4 linked regions of the Homo sapiens genome follow. The main gene of each other region encodes a partner of the protein of the gene in region 2 in a complex. Each region holds a gene or a part of one and is shown on either strand. Other genes may lie near its edges.

What was found.
Region 1: B9D1 (region 2) and AHI1 share a complex: the UniProt entries of both Homo sapiens proteins name them as parts of the tectonic-like complex.
Region 3: B9D1 (region 2) and TMEM67 share a complex: the UniProt entries of both Homo sapiens proteins name them as parts of the tectonic-like complex.
Region 4: B9D1 (region 2) and CEP290 share a complex: the UniProt entries of both Homo sapiens proteins name them as parts of the tectonic-like complex.

Annotation. Positions count from the first base shown.
Region 1 is NC_000006.12:135,486,555-135,495,891, forward strand, and holds part of AHI1 (jouberin), read right to left. Parts: 5' UTR 9,260-9,337; intron 9,156-9,259; exon of another isoform or gene 8,985-9,155; intron 5,738-8,984; 5' UTR 5,684-5,737; coding exon 5,674-5,683; intron 4,194-5,673; coding exon 4,069-4,193; intron 1-4,068. UniProt on the Homo sapiens protein: Involved in vesicle trafficking and required for ciliogenesis, formation of primary non-motile cilium, and recruitment of RAB8A to the basal body of primary cilium.
Region 2 is NC_000017.11:19,341,532-19,346,917, reverse strand, and holds the end of B9D1 (B9 domain-containing protein 1), read left to right. Parts: intron 1-2,343; exon of another isoform or gene 2,344-2,412; intron 2,413-3,060; coding exon 3,061-3,128; coding exon of another isoform or gene 3,129-3,456; coding exon 3,457-3,599; 3' UTR 3,600-3,743; downstream 3,744-5,386. UniProt on the Homo sapiens protein: Component of the tectonic-like complex, a complex localized at the transition zone of primary cilia and acting as a barrier that prevents diffusion of transmembrane proteins between the cilia and plasma membranes.
Region 3 is NC_000008.11:93,812,827-93,819,891, forward strand, and holds the end of TMEM67 (meckelin isoform 1 precursor), read left to right. Parts: intron 1-2,478; coding exon 2,479-2,621; intron 2,622-3,545; coding exon 3,546-3,626; 3' UTR 3,627-5,295; downstream 5,296-7,065. UniProt on the Homo sapiens protein: Required for ciliary structure and function. Part of the tectonic-like complex which is required for tissue-specific ciliogenesis and may regulate ciliary membrane composition.
Region 4 is NC_000012.12:88,083,089-88,090,432, forward strand, and holds part of CEP290 (centrosomal protein of 290 kDa), read right to left. Parts: intron 6,400-7,344; coding exon 5,944-6,399; intron 4,857-5,943; coding exon 4,692-4,856; intron 3,411-4,691; coding exon 3,303-3,410; intron 3,086-3,302; coding exon 2,951-3,085; intron 1,765-2,950; coding exon 1,498-1,764; intron 867-1,497; coding exon 759-866; intron 143-758; coding exon 1-142. UniProt on the Homo sapiens protein: Involved in early and late steps in cilia formation. Its association with CCP110 is required for inhibition of primary cilia formation by CCP110.

The sequences.
Region 1 (9,337 bases), on a different chromosome or scaffold from region 2:
TTTTAACAAGATTAATTTCAATGTGTTCATATATTTATATAGAGTTTTTTGTTCTCAACACACATTCATAAATGAGACAGCTATAAGTTTCTTTTCAGGAAGAAAAACATAGACAACTGTCTATATTTTTGCACACTTTTACTTTTAAACTTTATGTCATTTTGTTTAATGTGTGAATCTTGCAAGTAAAATACCTGATATTTTATTTTATTTATTATTAGTATTATTTTTGAGATAGGATCTCCCTCTATCACTCCGGTTGGAATGCAGTGGCATGATTATGGCTCACTGCAGCCTCGACTTCCCAGGCTCAAGCAATCCTCCCACCTCAGCCTCCCAAGTAGCTAGGACTACAGGCGCATGCCACCATGCCCAGGTAAGTTTTTATTTTTTGAGAGACAGGATCTTATTATGTTGCCCAGGCTAGTCTTGAACTCCTGCACTCAAGCAATTCTCCCACCTTGGATTTCCAGAGTCTTGGGATTACAGGCATGAGCTACCATGCCTGGTCCTGATATTTTAAAAGTCTATTTTTGAACCCACTTTTTAAAATAGGAAGCTTAAACTATTTACATTTATTGTCATGACTCAGTTTGCTCTTACTTAAATTTCTTATTTCATTACATTCTTTTAAAAAAACTCACTTAATTTTTTTAACTCTGACAACTTAGAAAGTGTAATAATCTATTTTATATATATACTTGTTTTATTTATTTCAAACTCTAGGATGAAATAATAACTTTTAACTATACGCTAGGGACAAGAGTAATGGTTACGTGACTTTTTCTTCCTAAGCTAGGATGCTTTGCTCAATCTTTGAAAACAATTTGGTTCTGTTCTCTCACATTATCATATACATATATCTAATGTAAAATCTTCAGGAATTATTCTGGACATATATAATAATTAAGAAAGTTCTACATATTTAACTGATTTCAAAGTTCATCCAATGGTATTTTTGGATCATAAATTTCCCATCAAAAAAATTTTTAACTGATACATAATAGTTGTACATATTTTGGGGGTACATGTGATATTCTGACACCATATACAGTGTATAATAATCAAATCAGAGCATCTGAGATACCCATTACTCCAAGCATTTATCTTTTATGTTGGGAACATAAATCTTCTCTTCTGGCTATTTTGAAATATACAATAAATTATTAACTGTAATTTCCCTACTGTAATACTGACTACTAGAACTTATTCCTTCTAACTATATTTTTGTACTCCTTAACCAACTTCTCTTCATCCCTTCCTCTAAGATCTTAAGATGTTCTATTCTTAAATTCTTAACTTTGATTCATATCTAGAAATGGTACTACATCTTTAATAAATCTTAAATCTTTTTTTTTTTCCAGGGAGGGAACACTGATATTTCTCTAATAATGCACATATGTTTACAACTACCATCACAAATGACTGACAACTTAGGTGACCAGATTCCTCAGGCTACAATTTTTCTCTTAGTGCTCTAAATATTTCTCCATTGTCTTTTGGATTTAGTGTTTTTACAGAGAAGTCTCAAATGTACTATATGTTTTTGTGTTTAGGTGTCTGCAATATTTGACTCTTAAGATACAAACAAAAGAATTTTCTAGATATAGTTCTCATCTCATAAATTTTGCCTGGAATGCAGGATGACTCATCTCTTCAGAAATCTCAGCAAGGTTTCTTCATCATGCTCATTATTGTTTCTGCTCCACTAGTACTGTCCCGGGATACTTATTTGTGGGTCAAATATCTTTCTATGTCCTCATCATTTATTTCTTTCATTTTAGTTTTGGTCATTTCTTCCCACCTCGAATTTGTCTCCCACTTCACTGATTAGATTTTTCCGTAGTGTCAATTCCATCATTTTAGGCCTGAGATATAGTTTTAAGGAAGCAACTGAAGAACATGAACTTTAAAATTGCAGAGACTGTGGTCTTAAATCCCACTTATCCTATTTTAGACTAAATGACCTAAGGAAATCACCTAACATGTCTGTTTGTCTGTTTATAAAATTTCTCATGTGCAAAAAAAGAATCCCAATATCTATCTTGCATGATTAACATGAGATTTAGAAATAATATTTGTAAAACTCTTATTATTGTGCCTTATATATAACTGGAATATAAGATGAACCTGCCATTATTATGAATCCCTATTTTGACTTTTTTCCTCGCTTAATTTTATTTCAGACTGCTCCATTTCTCATCTCAGCCTGTTCTGTACATAGGACTCCCTGTTCTTCTTTCAAGAAGAAGTCCTATCTTTTCAAATTTCATTAAAATAGATAATATTGGGTTGTGGTTAAGGCAGTGGATTCTGCACTTCCACTCAGTGTTTGAATCCTGGTTCTACCATTTACTATGTAACTTTCAGCAAGTTACTTAACTTCTGATGTAGTTTTCTCCTGTACAGAAATAAAACCCTGTAATTTCGTCGTTTGTATTAAACGACTAAATATATATAAAGTGTTTAGAAGAGTGCCTAAAGATAGAAAGCATTAAGGCATCTAGCAAATGAAAGCAGCTATTCCTCTTTTACTTCCTCAAGTTAATCATGTCAAAAATATTTTGTTCTCCTCTAAGTCCTTTAGAAATATTCCTGTTCTTTTGAGCTGCGAAATATCTTCCCAAATATTTGTTCCTAGTGTACTTATTTCTGAAAGAAAAGAAGCCTATTCAGTCCTGGTGTTTGCAAAGAGAGGCTGGATAAATTATGCTTAGTCACCTCACACTTATGTGCCCCTCAACATTTAAACTGGACCTTAGGTAAATGGACATAGCCTCTGCCTATTCTGATTATCCATTTAATTTAAACCTTGGTCTAAATTGCATTTTGTTCATGGCTCACAACTCCCAGTTCTTTAATACTAAGAGACAATATGAGGTTCTTCTCTGAGCATAAAACATCTCTGCAGACAACTGTTTCCAGGGTTCTTTTTGCTTTTGCCCAACATAAACCACTCCATCTGAGGGGAGCGCATATATCAATAAGCAATGTTTCATCCTCCATGTCACTATTCCCTACCATATTGTGCACTAGTACCACCAGAAAAAGCACATGCTATTTCAGAGCAGCAATCACTATGGGAGTGCTAATCTGTCCATTCTGTCAGTAGTTCGAAATTTTTGTGCAGTCGTACACCAGTGTATACACTATGAACCCTCACATATGTGCAGCTGGATTTTGGTCAATTTTACTACTTGTTTTTGCCTCACTTCAGAATTTATATTGTTACATTGACATCTGCCAGACAGAATACTAAAATGAACAGGTCTTAAGAAAAAATGGGGTAAATCTTACTACAAGCAAAATGTAGGATTATAACTCATTATAAAACTCCTGCCAAAAAAAAAAAAAAAACTATGTACCATTTACACAAGAGCCTGTTTATTTTTTTCTGTGAGGACAGAAGAGATAATGGTCAAAGTAGTAAAAAGTGCAACTCAAGTAGGGAGATAGGTATAAAGAGGGCATAGAGCATTAACTGTGGATGCCAATACAGACTCTTTATGATTCCAAGGGGATCAGGTTGTAGTTAGTTGCTGATTTGCTTAGTCTTTGAGCACTGTATTTTTAATTCCTTCAAGTGTGCTGCCAAAGATTCTATCATTTGAAAGTGTGCCTCAAACATAAAAGGATAATTATTACCATACGGCCATTGATTTCTCCTGGTTCTGTTGGGTAGAATCACACAGAAATAGTTTAAATAAGCACAAGCTATTCAATATCTGAAGTTAAGATACTACTTCCTAAGTTCTTCACAATTCTGGGTTAAAAATATTTTCTTCAAAAATGTTATCATGGCTAGTTTTGAGTTTCCCCACTATCTCTGGTCATTTTCCCCACTGTGTGTGTGTTCTTCCTGTAGGACAGCACTCAAGAATGAAGTCAATATTCTCACAGTGATGTTGATTCTAATATAAACTTTATTTTTACCACATGTTATTGACCATGACATAGTGTTACTGTTTTTAATTTTCAAAATTCCTTAGAATTTTAACATAAAATGCAGCCATATCTGCATTTTATGCGCATATGTAAATCACTATTACCCAATGATCATTTACTTACTGAGATGTTTTCTTCAGACCTGACAAGTTTTTTCTTCAGTTTTTTCTTTTCACGCATTAGATCACTGTGGGTCTTAAGCAATTCTTCAAAGCGAACTTTGGTTTTTACTTTTGCTTCACTCTCAGCTACAAAAGATACAGCCATGTGATTTTGTAAATGACTCTATCATAACACACAACCTACACTACTAGGATGTTAAGAAATAAGTTCTTGTAAATATCGGCATGAGTTCTCTAGCTACATTAGAAAAACTCACCTATCTTTCCTTCTTAAAATATTTTTTATTTTGACTTTAGTGACACAACATTCACCTGTATCCCTCTGACCTTTTTGGCCACTCACTCTAAAAGTCTCCTTTGCTAAGTTAACTTTTTATTTCTGATAAACAGTAGCATCTACCACTGTTAGTTACGTGTTATGTGGCTTTAGACAAGTTACTCAAGATCTCTAAACTTCATTTTCCTTATCTGTAAAATCACAATTATCTTATGCCAAAGATCATTTTGCATGAAAAATGGCTAAGGTGTGCCTAGCCTGTAATCAGTATTCCACAAATATTAACAGGTTTTTCCTTTAAAACATGAAGAAGATAATGCTTAAGCCCCTGAAAATTTCCCAATACATTTAGGATAAAATAAGTCTTTTATATGCCCTACAGGGCTCCATACCTCCTGATCTATCTCCAGGGCTTCAAATCAAGACAAATATCCCCTTAGATGCCTATGTTCTAGCTATAATACCCTTCCTTTAGCTCCTCCGTCACAGCAAGCTCCTTCCCACATGAAGCTGTTTCTGAGGCAAGCTTCCTCTAATTCCTCACCTGGCTGGTGTTAACCTGTCTGTTTAAATGCTGCCTGTAAATAAAACACCTCCTGACAAACTCATCTAATTTTCCCTTTTCTCACATAGCAGGTTGTTCTCTTCCTTCACAGCACTCAACCCAAATGGAAATTATATAATTATTTTTATATCTATATAAAGAAACATATTTTCTGTTTCCCCCATAACTACATCCCCAGCTACTATTATGAGGTCTGACATAGTGTACATAGTCATTATGTTTTAAATTAATAAATGCTGAATGAATGGGTGCTCTAGAGCAAGTGTCGGCAAACTATGGCCTGCAGGCTAGTCACTTGTTTTTGTAAAGATTTATTGAAATCAGACATACCCATTTGATTAAGAATTGTTATAACTGCTTTCATGCTTTAAAAGAGACAGAGAGACAGAGTTGAGCAGTTATAGCAGAGACTAAGCCTAAAATATTTACTAGCTAGCCCTTTTAGAAAAGATTGCCAATGCTTGTGGTGGAGTAAAACATTCAATTTTGATGATAAAGAATAAAAACTAACCCTATGTTGTAATCATTATTTACCTTGTCCATCTGAGTCCCAAACTACCATCCATTAAATACATACTAACCTTAATCACAATATTAAATAGAAAACTGAATACAAAACCAATAAGTATCTCTAAATGTAGTATATTTGGTCAATGACATCTACTGTATTCATTAATCTGTTCAAGAATCCCTTAAAATAAACCAAACTTAAAAGTAAATGTATAAAATATAAATTTTATACATAAATTTCATAGAAGTCTTACCTGTAGGCATCTCTCAGCTTTATGCAGAGGACTGAGAATGCAAAGCATTGACTCAATCAGGATCCTATCGAAACAAAGGAGATGTATTTGTAATATGGAACTTCCAAATAAAAATTATAAAACGTTCTTCACACAAGATCATGCCATTGTATGTCCACTACTTCATTAAGTTTATACCAATAAAGCTATGTTCCCTTAACCCAATCTTATGCAAATGACTTGGGTACATTTGAATCAGTTTAGGGCTCTAAAATCAAGGGAAACAAACTAGATCATATCTGAATAAAGTATTTATATATTTGAAACAAAAAAAACATTTTGAAGGCAGTGCACATCTAATGTGGTATGTTAATAAACTTTTTAAAGTGTTTTAATACATTAATGAACATTTCAACGCACTTTTAAGAAACCAAACTCCATCTCAGGATTGACTTTCCTAAGAGCATTCAATATTACATTAAAGCATGCTTGTGGGTAGCACACTCACAGTGAATTTAAATACCTCTGTGTCTGCCACTGAAAATTCTGCTACAATAGAGAAGGATAGTACAAATATTTGCACCATCTTTCTTTAATAAAACCTGGATGTGTATTACTGTGTCAGAACTACTCAAAACCATGGTTCAACTCAGTATGTATATTACTAAATTGCCCATTTTATTAAAAAAATCGGTGTATGTCTAAAATGAACATATTCTCACATTAGAACATTTAGAATGTAATATGCATGTTTTTGAGACTAAAACTGAAGAGTGTTAAAAAAAAAGCTGGTTCAGGAATTATTGATTTGTTTGTTTTTGAGATGGAGTCTCCCTTTGTCGAGTGCAGTGGTGTGATCTCGGCTCACTGCAACCTCCGCCTCCCAGGTTCAAGCGATTCTCCTGCCTCAGCCTCCCGAGTGGCTGGGATTACAGGTGTGCGCCACCACACCCAGCTAATTTTTGTATTTTTAGTAGAGACAGGGTTTCATCATGTTGGCCAGGCTGGTCTTGAACTCCTGACCTCATATGATCTGCCCGACTCAGCCTCCCAAAGTGTTGGGATTACAGGCGTGAGCCACCACACTGGGCCCAAGGCATTATTGGTTAATGCTCCAATTCCCTGGACATCCACATTCATGTTCCTCTTGCAGAAATGTCTAAGAAATTCTAAAAAGAAAGGAATGATTATGTAAACATACCTAACTATGTCAGTTAACTTAGGCAACAACTACGTGGCACCCAGTCAAAACAGACATCACTAAATCCATGGAGTAAAAATTCCTATACTTTAGTGATAGGAGCCTGTATTTACTCCTTCTAGCAGTTATAAATTTAATAAATCTAGTCTTCTACTTTCTAGTCTATATTAAATTAGAAAAGAGAAGCTGCAAAGGCAAGTGCAATGACAGCATGAGTAATTGAAACCTGAGAGCACGGAAGTAGAAAAATCATAAAACAAATAAAAATTTAATATTTATACTACTCGATGGTCATCTAATAGGCCAGGAAAAAGCTGACCTATATTATGACTATGATTCATCAAAAAAAAGCCTGCTGGGCGCCGTGGCTCATGTCTGTAATCCCAATACTTGGGAAGGATAAGGCGGGTGGATCACTTGAGGTCAGGAGTTTGTGTCCTGTCTGGCCAACATGGTAAAACCCCATCTCTACCAAAAATACAAAACTTAGTCAGGCGTGGTGGTGGGTGCCTGTAATCCCAGCTACTGGGGAGGCTGAGGCAGGAAAATCGCTTGAACCTGAAATGTGGAGGTTGCAGGGAGCCAAGACTGCACCAGTGCGCTCCAGGTGATGGAGTGAGGTAATATTTTAGAAAGATTAAATAACTAATGAAGAGGCAGGAGAAAGAATCGGAGATAATTCCCATGTTTCTAGAACTAGAATAAGTAGATTAGTAGTATCATTACACTGTAATATAATGCAGTACAGGGCAGTAGTTTAAAATCCATGTCCTAGAATTAGTTTCCATAGTCACTTGCGTGACTTTTGTTTCCTCATCTATAAAAACACCCTACCAGTGCCGACTCAAAGGGTTGTTGTAAGGGTTAAATGATTTAGAACAGTACCGTAGACAGAAGAAGCAACAATAAATGTTAGCTATAACTGTAACAGGTTGTTAGGGTGCAGTCACTGAGCTTAGTATGGGTCATGTTGAGTTGGGTATCTGAAGGGCACTGAGCAGCTACAAGCATCAGCTCCATTTTCAGATCCTTGGATCCAAATACCAGTTCTATCTGCCAGCAGATTCACCTCTATGGATATCAACTTCCTAATCTTTCACAATAATAAGAGTAAATCACTCACAGTGTTTTTATAAAGATTAAATGAGAATATGCAAATAAAATACTAGGCACAATGCCTAGCACATGGCAAGCCCTTCAAAAACAACAACTGTTATTACTGTCACGTGTGTGTGTGTTTACGTATATAATCATATTATGTTTGTTAGGCAATCTACTAATCCAGCAGGGAGACAATAGGCTGAAGATTTGGGAGTTATTTATAAATATGATAGTTCCAAGAAAATAAAAAGCCAATGAGAATCCTGTGAGCCTACAATATAAAGTAAAATCAGGGAGATAGGTGAAAAACTGGGAGATAGAAGCATTACAGAAGCAAACCCAAGTTTTAAAGGAGATGTTGCCTATATACTGTGTGGCATCAAAAGGGGCTGGAGGTTTTGAAGAAAGTCCACTGAATCTGCAAGTAGGAAGTCACGTGTGTCAAAGCTGTTTATAGAGGGGCAGAAACTTAGCAGGCTGGGGCTAAGGAATGAATGGAAGGTGACACCTGTAGAAGGGACATGTAGACAATTCTTTACAGAATTCTTCCAACTGTCTTCCCATCACCCCCAAAGGCAGTGACATGAGACAGTAACTCTGAGGGACAAAAACACTGTGGAAGGATTATGCTTTTTGTTTTAAGATTGTTTCCACGCCGCTATCACCTTTCCCTTAAAAAAAAAATCATCATCTACACAGCAACTAGTGTAATTTTCTAAAATTCAAATGTGATGGTGTCGTTTCTTCGCTTAAAATTCTTCACTAGCTCCCAATCGCACATTGAAAAAAATATCAAGTCCTTACCAGTGAGGTCCAAGGCCATTTATGAAATGTCCCCTTCACACATCCACTGTGTTCCAGACATGTGAAACTACCTGCAGGCCTTCACGTGTGCCAAGTTCTCTCTTGCTTTTGTATCATTACACACATATCCCCTCCCCTGAAAAATGTGCTTCCTCCTTTGTCTCTCTAACAAACTCCTCACTATCCTTTAAAGGCAAATGATATCTTCTCTAGAGAGCATTCTCACCTTGAAGGGCATTTAAGAACTTCTCTTCTGTGCTTCCAGGGTGCCTTAATCTTTGTAGCTCCCTCTACCTCAACCTTGAATTTTCACCCTGGTAAAATGTTCTGTAACTCCCACCAAACTGCTAGCTTTGGAGGACCAAGCCAATGCTCTCTTATAGTTATGTATCTGCCACTATGAAAGAAAAGAGAGGAGAAGAAGAGAGAAGCGAAGTGAAGAGAAGCAAAAGCAAAGCGAGTAAAAAAGACTCAGGCTTGAGCTCTAGTGTCACCACTTACTGATGTGTGGCCTTGGGCAAGCTACTTAATTTCTAATCCTTGGTTTTTCCTTGTCTGGGAATTTAAAATGGCACCTAT
Region 2 (5,386 bases):
TAATCATGATAAATGCCTTTACATGTGGGAGTCTCTGGCCGGAGCTGACATTTGCGCAGAGGCTTAGTGTGGAGGGAAGAGCCGGGGAAGAACATCAGGCACAGGGAACAGTGCCTGCCAGGCTGAGGAGAGCGTGAGCTTAGCATGCTAGAGAAGCCAGGACGGTGGTGTGGCCAGGACGGCAGTGTGGCCAGTAAGTGGTAAGCCAGGCAGAATGAGGGAGACATCAGGGAGGCAGGCAGGGGCCAGGACACAAGGGCCTGCAGGGAGGGCCCAGGGGATGCCTGGATGCAGCCCCAGCATGAAGGCCTCTTACCCCTGCTCACATCCAAGTGGGAGCTTAGAGGGCCAGCTGGGCCCTGGCCTTCTGACTCGAGGACCATTAGCGCAGTTGGGCAGCAAGCCTCTGCCGCCCACCGGCAGATTAGTGAGGCACAAGTGGAACATGGAGGACTCCCTGGGTTCCAGGGCAGCAGCCGGCAAGCAGCCCCTGCGAGCCTGGCCAGTACTGGGCGTGAGACCAGGCCAGAGCCCTGCTGGGTGGAGGGACAGCATCGCGCCCAGGGCCGAGAATGCTTCACTGAGCTCTGAGAGCCGTGGAGGGGAGGAAGGGCAGGGTCTCCGCTGGCCTCAGCCTGAGAATTTGTGTGCCTACTGCCCCTAGGAGTCCTTCTGGGAGGCCACCCTGTAGCAAAGGACTTCTTTCCCAGATGACCTGGGCCAGTATCACCTGGAGGTGACAATCCCCATGCCACAGGCTGTCAGGGAGGCAGCGAGGCAGTGCCCATCAGTGGGTTGGGAAAGCCTAAGAGACTGGGGACCCACACAGCCATCCAGGCTGGGTTATTCACCCTGTTCCACCGCCCACAGCTCCAAGGAGGACTTTGGGCCTCCAGGGGACAGCTCGCTGAGGAAAGGGTTTCACAGCCCCTGTGGAGGGGCTCGCAACTGGGCAAGGCAGTATGTGCTTGGATTACAAAAACTGGAGAAAGTTCTGATTAGTGAAGGCAGTTTGATTGGCAGAATCTTCCCAGATATGGAGGCTCCTTGCTCAGGCTGACACCTCGGTCATCCCCACCCCTCTCCCAGCCTCTCCCCACATCCTCCAGCGCTGGCCTAGGGCCTGCCCCAAACACTCTTGGCCACTGTATTCGTTTCCCACGGTGGCTGCTGCAACAAAACACACAAATGTGATAGCTGAAAACAGCAGAAATGTATGCTGAAGGCCAGAGTTCAAAATCCAGGTCACTGGGCCCAGAAAAGGCACCACAGGGCTGTGCTCCCTCCCAAGGCTCTAGGGGAGACTCTGTTTATTGCCCTTTCAGTTTCTGGTGGCCCCAGCCTTCCTTGGCTTGTGGCCTCATCACTCGAGTCCTGGCCTTTAGGGTCCACCTGGATAGTCGCCTCAAGATCCTTAGCCTAATCATATCTGTGCAAAGTGCACGTGACCCTGTTTCTCAATAAGGTCACGTGCACGGTTTCCCAGGACTAGGATCTGCTATCTTTGAGGGGCCGTCATTCAGCCTGCTGCCACCCCTCCAGTCTAGTCTTCACATAGCAAGAAAAACGGTGTTCCTAAAACACAACTGGGGCTGCACCCCTCCCCTGCTAGAACCTGTCTCTGTCAGAATGAACTTCAACCAGAATGCTGCCAGGCCGGTGGTCGGGCCCTGCCTACCTCATGGCCTCTGCCCACTTGCTTCCCATCTACCTCAGTTCCTGCAGTCTGAGGGGTCCTTCCTTGCCTCAGGTCCTTGCCTGGAATGCTCTCCCAGAACAGCCTGTCTTGTCTCCCCAACCCCAGCCAGCTAAGCAGACCACCCGGGTGGACCCCAGGAAAGAAATTCAGTGGGAACGGGAGCTCCATGTGAGCTCCGGGATGGGATCTGCTGGGCACAGTGGGGATGCTCCCAGGCCCCAGTCCTCATACATAGCCTCTTGTGAGGTGGGTGCTGTGAGAGTCTTGCTCTCCCAAAGGAGAAACTGAGGCGCAGGGGTTGTGGCTGCCCATCCCTTCCCCTTGGGGAGCGCCTGCTGGCTTTCACTCTCTGGCTCCCTCCTTGGGGTTGGGGGCTGGTGGGCAGTGCTCCCTGGCTGTGGTCTCCACAGGCCAACTCTGCGGCAGCTGAGAGCCCCTCCCTGGCCTGGGCCCCTCTGCAGCCGCCCCAGGTGAGCGCTGGTGCCCACCTCAGAGACGGAGAGGCCGCGGGGAGGGCGGTGCGTGGGCTTTTGGGTCGGCATGGTTGCCAGCGACCCTCGGGGCCGGGTGTGTCCGTGGGGGGACCTTGGGAGCTGTGGTACAGAGGAGGCGCGGCCGCGAGTCCCGGCGGGGCGAAGCCCGCGGCTGCTGGACCCACCCGGCCGGGAATAGTGCTCCTGGTTGTTTCCGGCTCGCGTGGGTGTGTCGGCGGCGGGGCCTGACACCCCCGGCCTCCTGGCCTCCCGCCTGGCCCAACTGGGGTCTGGGGCTGGGGAGGGCGCATGCTCAGCCTGGTGGCTGTGTGCCGCCCCTGGCAGGGCCTGCGGTGGGTGCCAAGATGGGAAGTGACATGTCCTGGACCCCACACTAGTGGGAGGTAAGGCTGAGGAGCCGTTCTGGCCCTTCTGCCCACCCCACAGACTCTCTGGGGTGGGACCCCCTTCCAGGGAGGCTGGAGGGTCACACTGTCCCCTCCCCTCCCCCACCTCAGCTGCTGTCACTTTTCTGGGATTTCTGGGGGTTCAGGTAGCACCCCCACCCCAGAATCTTCCTGAGCTCTCATTCCCAGTGAACCAAACCCATGGAAGCCAGAGATGGAAAAGCCTAACCGGCCAGCGGAGGCAGCGTGGCTGCAGAGCACATGAGGCCTGGCTAGGCTGTGTGACCTCGGCAAGGGACACCCCACGCTGGAGCCCAGCCACTGGGAAGGCTCTGCTTAGGGCCTGACTCCTGGTGGGGGTGGGGTGCGGTTGGAACAAGAGTGCTGGTTTCTGAACCGAGGAGAGCCCACATCCAGTGTCGTCCAAGACCAGGAATGCCCAGGTGGGGCCCTGCTCACCTGTGTTCTTCTGTGTTCCCAGCTGGTTCATGGGGCGGCGGCCCGAGTACACAGACCCCAAGGTGGTGGCTCAGGGTGAAGGCCGGGAAGGTAAAGCTCCCTCCCCTCTCTTACCCCCATCCCCCATACAGGTTACAGCCTGGGAGTGGGTGGGCCCAGGGTTGGGGTGAATGCCGGGGACCTGCCAGGCACATAGGAGCTAGCCCACAAATGTTCCCAGATGAGGGCCTGGTTGGAGCACAGAGGGTTTGTCATGTCTGCCTGTCCCGGCAGCCCCTTTACCTCCCAGTGAGGGGCTTGGGTCAGGCACTGTTGTCCCCATTTTACAGATGAGAACGCTGAGGCTGAGATTCCCAGATCAACCTGGGTCTCTCTCTGCCCCAGCCCAGCCTGGCTGATGCTGCCCTTCTGTCCCCAGTGACCCGTGTCCGTTCTCAGGGCTTTGTCACCCTCCTCTTCAACGTGGTGACCAAGGACATGAGGAAACTGGGCTATGACACTGGGCCTTCTGATACACAGGGTGTGTTGGGGCCCAGCCCACCCCAGAGCTTCCCCCAGTGAAGGCTCCACAGGCTGCACAGTCTCTGATAATGAAGGGCTGCCTTCCCGAAGTCAGCCGCTGCCCATCGGCCTGAGGGGCAGCCTGGTGGCCAGAGCTGGGGGCACACAGAATAGTTTTGTATAATAAAGTCTCATTTTCAGAGAGCCTAGGCCTGGGGCTGCCTTCTCTCCTGTTTAGCCCCTCCCCCACAGGAGCTGGGGGCTCTTGGGCCTTTCCTGGCCCCACCTCCAGGGCTCTCCCTGTCCCTACCCCTTGTGCCGTGGAAGCTGCCAGGAGACCAGACCGTGCAGCAGGATGGCATGTGGGATGGGAGCTTTGACATAACCAGGTTCTGCCACTCAAAGCTGTGTGGCCTTTTCTATACCGCAACACATTGTTCCTTGAACTAACTGGGCATGGCACCCTCCTTAGAGGCTTGGGGTTAAGTAGAATCACCCGTTCAGCCATGCTTCTGGCCACCAGCCTCCCTTGGCAAGGACAGAACCCTGTTATTGGGAGCTGGAATGGTGAGGTACCCCGGGGGATGGCAGACCCTCAGCCTGCCCACTCCCCTCTCTGCCCCCCTACCCACAGTCCAAGGATGGGGGCTGGAAACCTCTCAGAGGTGGGAGGCCGCTGGCTGGGGTCCAGCTTTCTGGCAGCCCCTTGGCAGGAGAGGAAGGTGAGCCCCCTGGCTCAACACCCTGACCTCTGAGGTTGTCCAGGCCCTTCTGGAAGCAGAGCCCCTTCAGCATTACTTTGGGAGGCCCTGACCCTGGGCCTCCCCACCTTCACAAGAACCCCTCGCACCTCACGAGGCAGCCCCAGGCCCTCTCTGCCCTGCCACTGAGCTTTCGGCAGACATGGTGCCCCAGCCTAGATACTGCCCTCAGCGGGATCCAAGAGAAACCACAGGCTCCTGGCAAACCCCCACCTCCCAGCCTCGCCCATGTTGCCCTGGACTGTCGTCATGGCACTTGCCCTGAGACCATCTGGGCCGACCCTCTTCTGCCTTTTATCTCACGAGCACTCCCGTGCCCTCCCCCCAACTCACTGTGCGTTCTGAAACTCATCGTCTGTTGTCAGCAAAATTCCTGTGATTCCATCTTCTCGGAATAGGAAGTTCCCTCTGCCTTCTGGCCTTACTGAAGCCCACTCAGTACCCTGCAGCCCTCTTAAGTGGAATCTTTTTCCTCCCACTCCCCATGTGCGGTGAGCCTAGAGCAGGGGTGTGTCCTTGCCTCTTCCTCAACCTCCTCACTTGGAACAGTCTGTCTTCACCTCTACCCCTCACAGCCAGGCAGGCATATCTCTTGTTACTGGTGAAGGCACTGCCTCCAAAGTCTGGATTGAGGCATCCCTCCCTCAGGCCAGGCCCTCCCTCATGTGGCGCTTCCCTGTGCTCTTCAAACCACCAGGCCCTCCAAGCTCCTGGCCCAGCCCCTTTTCGCCAACCATCAGCCCCTCTTTCCTTGCTTTCCTCCCAGCCCAGTTTAGAACTCTTGGTCATCTGCATGCACTTCCCATAGTGCCCTCCATCCTTCGTTTATGCTCACCTGGCAAGGTCTCCACCCTGGTGACAGCCAGCTGTTCCTTCGCCTGCCCTGCACCTGCCTGAGCCCCCAGAGCCACAACGGCTCGCGTTCCATCCATGGCCCAGGTCTGTGTTTCCCTAGACAACTCCCTCATGCATTCTCTGAGGAAACTTAACAGCCTTTGTCTCTTCAGGCCTCCAGCACCCTCCCTGCCAGCTTAGCTAAGGCGCTCCCTTCTGTTCCCACAACCACCCCACATTAGCTGCCTTCCT
Region 3 (7,065 bases), on a different chromosome or scaffold from region 2:
CCCAGGTTCAAGCGATTCTCCTGCCTCAGCCTCCCAGGTGCTGGGATTACAGGCGTGTGCCACCACACCTGGGTAATTTTTGTATTTTTAGTAGAGGCGGGGTTTCACCATGTTGGTCAGGCTGGTCTTGAACCCCTGACCTCATGTGATCCACCCGCCTCAGCCTCCCAAAGTGCTGGGATTACAGGCATGAGTCACCGTGTCTGGCCCTATTATTTTTAATAATACAATCATCACCTTCTTTCTTCCTTCTTCCTGCTTTTTTCTTCCTTTCTCCTTTGTTCCTTCTCCTGCAGTCTTCCTTCCTCTTCCTCCTATCTTCCTCTTCTTTCTAAGTATGTTCTTCCATTTCTCTATCTGCTTTTTTTTGGAGATGGAGTCTCGCTCTGTTGTCTAGGCTGGAGTGCAGTGGCACAATCTCGGCTCACTGCAACCTCCGCCTCCCAGGTTCAAGCAGTTCTCCTGCCTCAGCTACCCAAGTAGCTGGGATTACAGGCACCTGCCACCACACCTGGCTAATTTTTGTATTTTTAGTAGAGATGGAGTTTCACCATATTGGCCAGGCTGGCCTCGAACTCCTGACCTCAAGAGATCTGCCCACCTCGGCCTCCCAAAGTGCTGGGATTACAGGTGTGAGCCACTGTGCCCGATCTCACTACCTTCGTCTTCATCAAGAGATGATGAGACTATGAGCTAAGGCAGTAGCAGTGGGGCTAGAGAAGAAGAAAGGATTGCCAGAAATGTTAAGAGAAAAGAGTAGTCAAAAATTATCCAGACTTCTGGCTGTGTGACTAAGTGGGTGGTGGTGCTTTTCAATAACAGAGGCAATACAGAGGGAGGATCAGGTTTTGAGGGAAAGAGGATGAATTTAGTTTTCAGTATGTTGCATCTTGAGGTACTTCAGGACATCTAGGAAGAGGTATCCAGTAGGCATTAAATATAAGGGACCAGGTTGTAGGAGAAAGTAGAAGCACACAATAAATTGAGGAGTTGCTATCATATGAAGTCATTGCTGGAGCAATGTTAGTAGAAAATCACCAAGAGAGAGCATGTAAAACAGGTTTTTTAAGATTATATATGCAAGTGTAATGTGCATATTTTGTAAGGATATAACTTATAGATCAGTGAATTTTCACAAACTGAATATACCCCTGTAACTAGTACCCTTTCAAGAGAGAACATTACCAGCACTCCACATGCCCTCTTGTATAAAGCAGATGTTCCTAACTGGGTGTCCATGGGCTGCTTCAGTGGTTCTCTGGATTTCCCTGAAATTGTTTAATTGTTTGCAAGAGTTGTATATGTATACTTTTTTTTTTTTTTTTTTTTTTGAGACGTAGTATTGCTCTGTTGCCCAGGCTGGAGTGCAGTGGCACGATCTCGGCTCACTGCAAGCTCCGCCTCCCAGGTTCATGCTATTCTCCTGCCTCAGCCTCCTGAGTAGCTGGGACTACAGGCGCCCGCCACCATGCGTGGCTAATTTTTTGTATTTTTAGTGGAGACGGGGTTTCACCGTGTTAGCCAGGATAGTCTTGATCGCCTGACCTCGTGATCTGCCCGCCTCGGCCTCCCAAGTTTATGTATACTTTTTTTTTTTTTTTCCTAATGGAAAGATCTATAGCTTTCATCGGGCTTTTTTTTGTTTTTTTTTAGTGACAGGTTCTTGCTCTGTTGCCCAGGCTAGAGTGCAGTGGTGCAATCATATTAATAGCTCGCTATAACCTCAAACTCCTTGGTTCATGCAGTCCTCCCATCTCAGCTTCCCAAATAGCTAAGACTACAGGTGTGCACCAGCAGACCCACCAGACCTAGCTTTTCTTTCTTTCTTTTTTTTTTTTTTTGTAGAGATGGAGTCTGACTATGTTGCCTAGGCTGGTCTTGAACTCCTGGCCTCAAGCAGTCCTCCTGCCTCAGCCTCCCAAAGTGCTGGAATTACAGGCATGAGCCACTGTGCCCGGCCTCATCATAATCTTTTTAAAAGGGTGTTCACATCCCAATAAGGATGAAACTCGCTGGTGGAGTGAGAAGAGGTCTTAGAGCAAAACCTCAGCGGGACTATTTGAGATAAATTCTTGAACTCTTGAACACTATGTACTTACTCTATGCCTTGCTGGTTTTTTCTCTGATTTACTGTATCTTAGGGAATGTTTGTAAGACTAATTTAGCTTTTAGTTGTATAAAGAAATAGAGAAAGGCTATTTATTAAATGGTCTTTGAAACTTACACTACTAGCAATTACCAACCATTGGTCCTAATGTTAAAACTGCTTTTTAGAAGTTTTTATGAGTTTTTAACTAACCTCTTTTAGATGAACAAATCTTAAAATGTTTGTTTATTTTTGTGTAAGCCATGAAGTATTGTATACAGTATGTTTCTAATGTGCTGTTTTTAAACATCCAGATTTTGTCACCAGAAGTTTATCACAGACTTGTTCCTTTTTTAAATTTCTAATTTATATTTTCTAAATTTTTTTAATAGATGAAGGTTATTCTTTCAGCAGTGTCCTGTATTATGGAAATGAAGCTACTCTTCTTATTTTTGATCTGCTGTTCTTCTGTGTTGTGGATTTGGCTTGCCAAAATTTTATTTTAGCATCCTTCCTTACATATCTACAACAAGAGGTAAACTTTTAAAATTTTTCTACATTTTCCTTCATTTTCTTGAGAGAAATATGTTAGAAGTAGATATTTTCATAGCAGAGAGTAACAATGTCTACTTTTACTACAATTTTGTAAAGGTTTAGAATATGACTAACCCCACCAAAAGAAGGAATAACATTTCAACCAACTGTACTCTGTCCTTTAGGGTCAATGAAATACTGGGGTCTAGTGGAGGGCATAAGTTGCTTGATTATACATGGAAGAGGAATCCTATAGGAAGACACTTAACTGCTAGTCTCCTAGATGCTACAAGTGAACAGTAATTAGAGTCCCATCCACCCTCTCCAGACGTTAAGTAACAAAAAAACAAGCACTGGAGAGCTAGCTCAGGGCTCAGCACCAAAGCTTGCAGCTTTGACACCTCCCCCACCTGTGTGGATAAAAAGCAACTTCATGTATGAGTGTGGACCCTGAAATAGAGATTTCAAGAATTGGCAAATCTGTTCTTGAAATGGTGTTATTATCAACTAAATATTCTCCACTATGTCAAAGAAGTATATATAAGTAAGATGCAATTTATTAGTCCTTGACAGTGATCTAGAATTGTGAAGAAATTCTATCTCTAGTGAGTAGATTCTTTTGATGTTTCCGTAGTTTTAGACTTAGAAGAAAGTTGCCTTTCTATATATTTTAAAGTGTATTTCTGTGAACATGAGAGAATTTGTATTATTAATTCATAAGAATTTACTCTAAATGGGAACATACTATGAAACTATGAAAGAAATTATCATCTTGAAATAATTTTATGTATCACTATGGGATTCAGATACCTGATACATGAAAATAGTTGAGAGAATTAGCTAATTTAATCTAGATATTTTAATCGACGTGCATATTTAATTCTGTTTATATTTCTTTTCATTCTGAATTGTTTTAATTTTCCAGATTTTTAGATATATCCGTAATACAGTAGGACAAAAGAATTTGGCATCCAAAACATTGGTGGATCAAAGATTTTTGATTTAACTTCCTGAATAAATAACTTAAAGACTCAGTATAATCATGGCCAAAAAAAAGTCATGATATCAGGTTAGTTTGCCATATTTTTTAAAACTTATAATGCAGACTATTCTGTTTTTGTTTTTTATTTGCAGAAAGATTTATTTTTATAACTTGGGAATATATAACCTGATATAATAGAAAATACTGTTTTCCCATTGTGTGTAGTATTTAATGCAGTAAATAATAAATTAATACTGACAGTGAGGCCAAAAAAAATCTAAATGTTGCTTTCAGCATAATACTTTTTAATGCTAATTAAAACAGTCCCCATCATTTGTCTCTGTAGATTATTTTATAAACTGAGAGCTGCCTGAATCTTCTCACATTGACAAAGTAATTTGATTCCAAGTTTAAGACTAGTTTTCAGTTTGATATTTTCATGTTTTGTGTGCTTATGGTTAAATAAATGTTGAAAGATATTTTCAAGTTTACTTAGAAATTTTAAATTGTATTATTGCTGATTCAATTTGCATCATTCTAATTGCTCATCCTCTTTGGCAGTGGATTAATTCACTGTTGGGTTAATATGCATCTCATGAAATGATATCTTTTCATTCCTTTGTATACCTGTATTAGGTCAGTATACGCTTTCCATGAAATATATTTGCATTTCTAATATAGTTTACATTTATTAAGTTATAACGTATGACATTTTTCCCAATATCATTTTTTATACATTTTAATTACTTAATGTTTTAAGAGTTCTCTTCCAGAGTTTTGCTTTTCAATTACGTTTAAAGACTGTAAATAACAAACAGTAAGGCTGGGCGCTGTGGCTTACGCCTGTAATCCCAGCACTTTGGAAGGCCAAGGCACGTGGATCACTTTAGGTCAGGAGTTCAAGAACAGCCTGGCCAACATGGAAAACCCCATCTCTACAAAAAATACAAAAATTAGTTGGATGTGGTGGCCTGTAATCCCAGCTATTTGGGAGGCTGAGGCATGAGAATAGCTTGAAACCAGGAGGTGGAGGCTGTAGTGAGCCAGATAGCACCACTGCACTCCAGCCAGGATGACAGAGCAAGACCCTGTCTCAGAAAAAACAAAAACAAAACACTGTAAATGTATCATGTTTCTCACTGCTTTCTATGTTAATGCTGTGTAAATACTTAAAATGGAATACTGTATAAATATTATTTATATTTTCTCAGATGAAAATATATACTAAAACATTTGGTATTTCTGTTTTCTGTTTCATTAATGTATATCTGATGGAGTACCATTTAGGAATATAACATTATTGGGGCAGAGGTCCCAGCCATTGCCAAAGTTGAATCTTTTACATTTCCCTGAATCTTGAGGATGACTGAAAAGGAAGTCTTTGAAACTGCAGTTTCTGAAGGATCACAGTACAGGAATGCCTTTATAAAAGCTGCAGAGATAAATACATGTACTTATATGGCATGGATATTTAAAACCACTCACTCAGAAGCATATGAAAGAAATTCAACCATCATTCAACATAGAAGAAGTTAATTTTAGTGCAAAAGTTTTTAAGTATTAAATTTCACAATAAAGGATCAATTGGCTTACTTGCTGATAAATTAAAACAGAAAACATTTAAAATCATTCTAAATTTTGTATGATATTTTTATTTTGGCTAGGTGCATAAAAATGTGTTCAGATTTTCATACACTGTCGACTCCTTTGTTCACATTGTCACAATTTACATTTCCTGATCATGTGCATAATTATTCACTAGATTCATTACCCTTTGTCTATTTCTGTAGTACCCAATCACTATACTTTGACTCTTATATCCCTGATTTTACTGATTTTCTAGAAACATTTGATTTCTCTTCATTTCATAATGAAACAAAACCTAGAGAGGTTCTTTATAAGCTGTTGTGTACTTTGGATGCTCCTTAGAAACATACAGGCCCCTAAAATACTTCTGTAGACCAGTGCCTCTGTTATGGGAGATTTGTAAATGCTTCCTTCTCTGGCATTGCTGTCCTAACTGCCTTTTCAGAAGGCTTTGCTGATGACCTACATTGAGGAACATTCAAAATGATCATTAACTCAGCACTTACAAGCATGAAGCATGTGTTTTTTTTGTAAATATTGACAAATATAAGCTGAGGGGAAATAACTGTAAGTCAAGGAGCAGTGAGGAGTGTGGCTTAATGGAAAGTGCTCCAAATTTAGCAAAAGAAGCCCTGGATTCAAATTAGAATTTTGCCCATCACTCATAAGCTTTGGTATCTTGAACTAAGTCATTTGCCATCATTGAGCTTCATTCTACATCTCTGCAATGAAAATAATATCCTTTGCTTACCACTTGTTGTAAGGATTAGTTTCGTGGGTGTGTGTGTGTGAGACAGAGAGAGAGAGATGGGGTCTCACTCTTATCACCCAGGTTGGAATGCAGTGGCACGATTTTGGCCCACTCTAACCTCTGCCTCCTAGGCTCAAGCAGTCCTCCACCTCAGCCTCCCAAGTAGCTGGAACAACAGGTGTGCACCACCATGCCCAGCTAATTTTTTGTATTTTTTTTGTAGAGACAAGGGTTCACCATGTTGCCCAGGCTAGTCTTGAACTCCTGATCGAGAGATTCACCCACCTCGGCCTCCAAAAGTGCTGGGATTACAGGTGTCAGCCACTACACATGGCCAGGATTAGTTTCTTAGAATGTGCTTTTAACATTGAGTAAACTATGAATGCTGGAATTTTTATTTTTAGTTTAAAATATCTGCCCCAAAATATATTTTTTTCTTGCTAATAAATTAATAATATGATATTAAAACTCAGATTACTGATCTCAATAACTGACCAATGAAAATTCTGAGCCTGCCTTCTTCCTCAGCCACCCCCAGCTCTGCCAGGAAGAGGCCCAGATAGAGGTCACCGATAGATGTAAAACATAAAAGAAGACAACACCCCTGTGGGAGACACAGTTTGTGATAGAGGGTGGAGAGAACAGGAAGAGTGGAGTATTGTCTCTGGGAGGGAGGGTTTTTTTCATTTGCTCATTCATTCCAACAATGTTTCTACCTCTTCCCACTCCCCAGCCCCTCAGAAGGGTCTTATAATTTGTAAGAGAAAGAGGTAAATTAACCAGTAATTACAGCAATATGAAACGTGCTGCAGTACCGGGGTGTGATATAAGGAAAGCTCTTAACTGTACTTCTGGGTCATCAGGGCTTTGACCTCAGAGAAGTGGATTTGATCTAAGATTTTAAGATAAACAAAAAAAAACAAGTGCAACCAAAGCATGGAACAGTATGTGCTCAGAGACAAAGCAGCACATGGCAGTTTGGGGCACTACGGGCAGTTTGAATCAGAGTACATGTACTGTTTATATTTTAAAAGTTGTCTGTATAAGATGTTTTGTCATTTTAAGAAACCTTCCCTTCTGGGGAGTGATTGTCCCTCCTGGGGCTCCCCAGTTCTTTTAGACAGC
Region 4 (7,344 bases), on a different chromosome or scaffold from region 2:
CCAAATCTTGTGATACTTTCTTTAGTTTGACCAAGAGTGAGGAAAGAGAGTCATCTTGTTCTGCTACTGTCTGTTCCATCTCAGCCAGACGAATAAAATGCTTGTTGGTAGGAACTGGAGTGGGAGACTGTTTCATTAAATCCTATAAAATATGAATATATTAGCAATAGGCATGTATAATTCAATGCCATACTTATTCCATATTTTTAATTTGGTTCCTCAAATGATCAAAATATAATATCTAATCTAAAATGTAATGATTTAATAGGCAATGAAGGCTTAAAGAAGACAGGAAATGCAGACTTTATTATTTGTATTTACAATAGCTAGCAAAATGTCTGCACGTAGCAGGAGATCAATAAGTGTTGACCGAATTAACGAGGTAATGCTCAAATATGCTAAGGTTACACATTAAAAGATGAAAGACATGTCATTTCATACATATGGAACAGAATGGTCAAAAGAGGCAAATATGAGCTGAATTCTGGAAGTTAGATATAGCTAAACTCACAGTGAGTAGAATTTGAAAAGAAAGGCAGGTAGGTTCATAGCAGATTGAGTACATGGCTAAGAATTATAAATATAATTTTGTGAACAGCGGTGAGCTACAGGAGGAAGAATGATCAGAGCTATGTTTTCAGAAGATTATTTTGGCAACAAAAAGGGTAACTTCCATTCCAAAAAAGAAGAGAGCTGAATTTTAATTTACATGGTCACAAAAATCAATAAAGAATGGAACAAAGTTCTTAGAATCTTACCCAAGCCGTTTGTTTGAATTTATTTAGTGAACTATCAGCCTGTAGTTCTAATCTGTGATGAAGAATATGAAGGTCTTCCTCATGTTTCTTCACAATTTCTCTTTGCTCCTGTTTTACAGAAAATCGAAACTATATCTTAAATTGTGATTAAAACAAATTCACATTTTGAAGACCTTATATATTTTCTCTTCAATCTTCTAAAATTCCTTTGAGATGAGGAAGAAACAGTATCTCCATATATGTATGTATCTAGACTGGTATGCATGTCCCCTCAGACAATGTTCAAGTTGACAAGCCCAGCCTCAGTTCATAATTTATTCTTAACATTAGAATGACATGTATCTATCATCTTTTAACTTACTTCTAGAAAAAATTAAATGTTAGCTTTCCCCCACGAAGTTCTAACAAATCTGATTTCTACTGATTACCGGTGTGATATATTTCATTCCACCCTATTGCCTCAATCCTCACCTATAAACTCAATTAAAATATTTTTCAAAATCATATGATTTCACCATGATAGCTACTCGTGGTTTAGTCAGTGTATAATAGAAAGATACATGTACACAAACTTCCAGTTTTACTGACAGAGGTGTAATCCAATCACATGCAAGTAACAATTCTTAAATAGAATCATTTGAAAGCAAGAAAAGAAATACCACTTTAGGGTAAAATAATATTTAGCATTTGCTTAAAAAAACTAATGGATAACAGCATAACTCATAATATAATAAAATACCTCTCTGGCTTTTTCTAGAAGACGTTGATACTTCTTTAATACTTCTTCTTTTTGATTTAACCTTGCTTGCATGTTTGCAATGGTTTGATGAGCAATTTTCAATGTGTGGTGAGATTTTGGTTCCATCTCTTTTCTGCCTAGCTCAGCTATGAGCTTTTCTCTTTCTGCAGTGGCAGGCAATCGAAGCCTCAGTTCATTGATTACTTTGTCTCTTGACAGTATATTTTGTTCTGCTAACCTTAAAGCAGATTCTTTCTCTTTTAGTTTCTGCAATGATTAAATTATAATAAATCATTAAAGTATCTTTTTCCCTTTAAAATGCTTCATCTGAATTTTAGATTAGTTATTAGCCAAAAAAAATTCACTTTATTTTTCACATCATATGTACAATAGCCATTTGATACTTAATAAGGTTAAACTGACTAATTCTAATTGACAGCAGTTATTTGCATGCTTATTTATAAGACTATTACATATGCTAGAAACTTCATTGTTATGATGAACATAAAATTTAATTAAGGTACTTTATTGAGATATTACAGTTTAGAATTATACATGTATGGTGGTACTAGATTTAGGAAGAATATGTAATAAATTATTTCTTTTATTTTGGTCCATTGACTAGCAGAGCATTAGGAGACTAATCTATAAGTCAGTTAAGTACAAAACTGGAATTTTAGAGGCCCAACTCAATAAATTACGAATATAAAATCCGCAGCTTATTAAAACAAAGAGAAAAAAACAGAAAAATTTTTACTCTTCAAGAGGATTAAGGTGAGTATTTTAAATTAAGTAATTCAATGGCAATTCACATAAATGACAAATCTTAAAATTACTGAAGAAAATCTACGTTTCCTGAAATGATTAAAAATGTACAGTTTTACTTGAAAAACTTCTTTATGTATATTTTAAATGTATTTGCAGTTTATTTAGATGAAAACTAAAATGAAAACACATTCAGTTTACATTATTTTCTGAATAATTTAATGAAGATGACAGATTTGATCACCTACTAATCAAATTCAAGATCTAGGTTAAAACAGAAAGTAATTTCTAATTTACCTTCAACCCTTTAACCATGCATTAAAGGCAATGAACTGAAAATTGATTCATAGATTATGTAACATGCACTTCAAAATAAAACCAAAAAAGTAAGAATAAAGAGATCATATAAGAGAATATATTGCTCATAGAACTACAATTAAATGCTTTTTATTTCCTTTCATATTCAGTGTACCGAAAGGTACCAACTAATAATTAAATAGTGAATTCAAATTAACTATATCTGCTGTTCATTATTGGCTATTAGAAACATTATAGGAGAATAGAAAAATAGTGAAATTAGCAATAGATTCATCATTCTATGCATTGCCCTCATAAAGAAATATTATTTAGAAAGCCCCCCAAACATACCAAATAATACACTAATCAAAATGCAAATTCTTCTAATTACCTCTTCTAGTGATTTGCAAGTTGCCCGTGTTTCTAGAATTATTCGAATGTTCTCCTTAATTTTCCTTAGAGCGATCTCAAGTTGATTTGGAAGGGGCAAACTAGGGTCAGGGATTGATCCTGTAGCTTCTTCAAACTATTAAGAAATAGTATGTTTTTTAAAAAAGCAGTTGCAGCATTGAGAGTAACTATTAATTTTTACAGCTGTATGATAAAACATAGATTAAACCCCTCTTATATTTTAAATATACAATATAACATCAATTAAAATTACATCTGATACAGGAAATATTTCTGTGAGTTAACACTCTAGACTATGCTACAGAGTAACAAACAAGATTAATCATTCATACCTTTTGTGCCGCATTTAGTATTTCATTTTGCTGACGGTCAAAAATGTCTAGTTGGCGTTCCAGGTCAACTTCTCTTTGATCCCAGGCCATTTGTCTTTCTTCATGAAACTAAAAAAAGGACAATTTGTGTCAGACACATACACGAAGACATCAGGCACATAACAGGCATTTTATATATATTTTCTTATCTAATCCTCACAACACATTGAAGAAACTGTAATTATTTTCCTTTTATGGAAAAAAATACAAACTCAGAGAGGTGAAGTAACTTGTGTAAGATCACAAAGGCAGATGTGAAGTAAGGATTTCAGTCTATCCATCCATCCATCCATCCATCCATCCATCCGTTCAGCTATACGAAAGATATTTGATGACATATATTATGTGCCAAGCATCATTCTAGGAAATACAAACATGGCAGTAAACAAAACCAAGTCCGTGTCACCACGGAACTTGCATTCTGGCGAAGGAAAGACAGTCAATAATAAACCAGTAAGTATGTAATACGTCAGAAGGTTACAAGCACTTTGGAGAAAAATTAAGTTAATTAATCTCTATTTAGGAATCTGGATAGTAGGATTTACTGTTGTATATTAGGTGGCTGGTGAAGGATACACTGATAAGGTAAGACATTTGAGCTAAGACCTGCAGGCACTGACAGTGTAAATACCAAAGGTATCTAGGGTAAGAACAATTTAAGCAGGGGGAACAATCTCTGAGACAGTCATATGTTTGACGAATTTCATCTGTCTCTGAAGTATATACTTTATTCTATAAGAAGCTGACTTCTTACTCTATCAGTGAGAGCCAGTAGAAACGTGGAACTGTGAAAAGTCAAATAACCAATATCAAAATAAAAATTAACTTACCAAATGAGGTTGCTTATGTATTGCCGTTTTTAAGATTAAGACTACTGTTATAAAAGCTAAATAAATATGAATTTTTAGAATAGTTTAGAAAATAAAAAACAAATTATTATATAATCAATTAGTAATGGAAGGTGCACTTAATTAGAAGGATAACATAGTCATTTGTGCAATATTCTTGTTTAAAATCTTAGGGGCTCACGCCTGTAATCCCAGCACTTTGGGAGGCCGAGGCGGGCGGATCATGAGGTCAGGAGATCAAGACCATCCTGGCTAATATGGTGAAACCCCGTCTCTACTAAAAATACAAAAAATTAGCCAGGCACGGTGGCGGGTGCCTGTAGTCCCAGCTACTTGGGAGGCTGAGGCAGGAGAATGGCATGAACCCGGGAGGCAGAGCTTGCAGTGAGCCGAGATCACGCCACTGCACTCCAGTCTGGGCGACAGAGTGAGACTCCATCTCAAAAAAAAAAAAAAAAAAAAAAAACTTAGGGAAAAAAATGAAATAAATATAAAATAAAACCTTGTTCTGTTGCACAATTTCTTCTTCAAGACTGCTGATTGTACGTTCATATTCAGAAATTATGTTATTCAAATATTTTATTTCTTCTTTATCCTTGACTAATTCCCGATTTAGTTTAAGTTCTTGAAGACGAAGTTCTTCTATTTTCATATGCCAGTTGATTACCTAAGATTTACAATTTATATACACAAATATAAATGCTATATTAACAAATAACATTCCTCCATTGATGATAATGATTTTAATTGAAAGTAATGGCCATTCTAAAATAAAATAAGACACAATGTTATCTTTTGTCAAACTACATGACAAAATCTTATTTAGGATTTCCATAGACTTTTCTACAAATATGTGGGATTTTACAATAAAAATCTTCAAATTATGTTGGAATGGACATCACTAATATTCACTTTCATTTGTTATACGTTTATTGAACACTGACTATAAGCAGGTCATTGGAACTTTGGTATTACTTTCAAAAACAGAAATCCTAAATGTTTCTAGCCTAGAGAACAGGATGTAGTTGCAAGATAATTATTTTTCATTTAATTCTTTCTAAATGAAGATTAAACCATATTAAAAGTAAATGTGGGCCCACTACTTGTAGATCAAAGATAATTATGAACAGTAGAAATCAACTGATAACTACTACAATGTTTAAATATAATAATTAGTGTTTAATTAATATAAATTTTCCTATAGTAATTAAAATTCTTTGCTATTATACAATCTGAACATTCCCACTAAAATCTTTGGTTAGAAAAGCCTAATTTTATTTTTACGTATAATAGACATTCAAATAGCCAACACTGCTAAGTTATAAAATCTAAATTAATGAATCATAATTGGAATTTGTATCTTAAGCATTTTTCATATAGGCATATATTAAGAAATTATCATGTAACTCTTTTGAAGATAATGAATTTAAAATTGGCTGGGCACAGTGGCTCATGCCTGTAATCTCAGCACTTTTGAGAGACCAAAGCAGGAGGATTACTTGAAGCCAGGAGTTCAAGGCCAGCCTGGGTGACAAAGTGAGACCTTGTCTCTACAAAAAAATTTAAAAATTTTAAAAAATTAGGTAGGTATGGTGGTGTGCACCTGTACTGCCAGCTACAACTACTCAGGAGGCTGAGGCTAGAGAGTCCCTTGAGCCCAGGAGTTCCAGCTATGTTTGCACCACTGAACTCCAGCCTGGGAAACAGATCAAGATACTGTCTCTTAAAAAAAAAAATCAAGTTTAAATGTTTACCTTTTGGGCTCCTTTGGTATCCTTTAAAGTGCTTATTAACTCTTCCAGGCCCTTTAATTTTAATTCCATCTCCAATGTTTTGTTCTCCATATTTCTATGTTCTTGTTGAGAATTTTTCATTTCTTGCATTATCTTAAGTTTGTCATTTTGTAGTTGAATCATTGTTTTGGAGAACTTTTCCTGTTGTGCCAAGGGTAAAGCTCCACTAAACTGTCGTCGTAGAGACTGAATTGTTTGGCGCAGATGTTTTGCTCTGTTTCTTCCCTCCAAACGAGCATAATAGAGAGCCTGTTCTTTTTCATCAAGTTTCTGCTCTAAGCGCAAGTTGTAGGCCTCCATCTTCTGCAGTTTAGATGTAATTGACTCCAACTTACCAAGAGCAGTAGCCTCACTCAGTTGAAGAGAGACATTATGTTGGTGCAACTTGGCAATGAGCGACTTTTCATCAGACTGTGCCTGATATTAAAAAAAATATATATTTGTAGTAAGTTTCAAATTTTTCCAGTGAAAGTTATCACAGATTTAAAATTCACAATTTACTAAGCAAAGTTTTAACACAGTGGCACATGAGATCTACAAAAATGTAACTTTGCTTTAATACAAATAATTACCAAAGAACTGTAAAAGAAAAAACCTAGAATCAAACAAACTTAAAATCCAAATGTAACTGAATAACAGTGGGTATGTTACTGGTGTTTTTTTTTTTTTTTTTTGAGACAGAGTTTCACTCTGTCACCCAAGCTGGAGTGCAATGGCGTGATTTTGGCTCACTGCAACCTCCACCTCCCGGGTTCAAGCAATTCTCCTGCCTCAGCCTCCTGGGTAGCTGGGATTACAGGCACATGCCACCACGCCTGGCTAACTTTTGTATTTTTAGTAGGGACGGGGTTTCACCATATTGGTCAGGCTGGTCTCGAACTCCTGACCTCGTGATCCGCCTGCCTCGGCCTCCCAGAGTGCTGGGATTACAGGCGTGAGCCACCATGCCTGACTGTTACAGTTTTTTTTTAACCTCCATTGCAAGTAACATAATACTGATCAGGACAATGTGTATGTTTTTATAATTCCCAACATATATAACGTAAGAATATGTAAAAAGTTACATATAAATACAAGAGAAAATATTGTTATTAAAGATTTACTAACTACAATTCTCAGTGTCCTAATTTTGATCAGCAGCATAATTCATCTATAGGCATTTAAATGCTGTACTGGATTACTGAACAATATTTCAAATTAAAGAGCTTTCTAATCAGGTTCCAACTAACAAGAATAACAGCCTCTGGTTGGTATATCTTTTGATTAAAAATGTAACAATGGCCCAGCATGGTGGCTCATACCTGTAATCCCAGCATTCTGGGAAGTCAAGGTGGGCAGATCATTTTAACCCAGGAGTTTGGG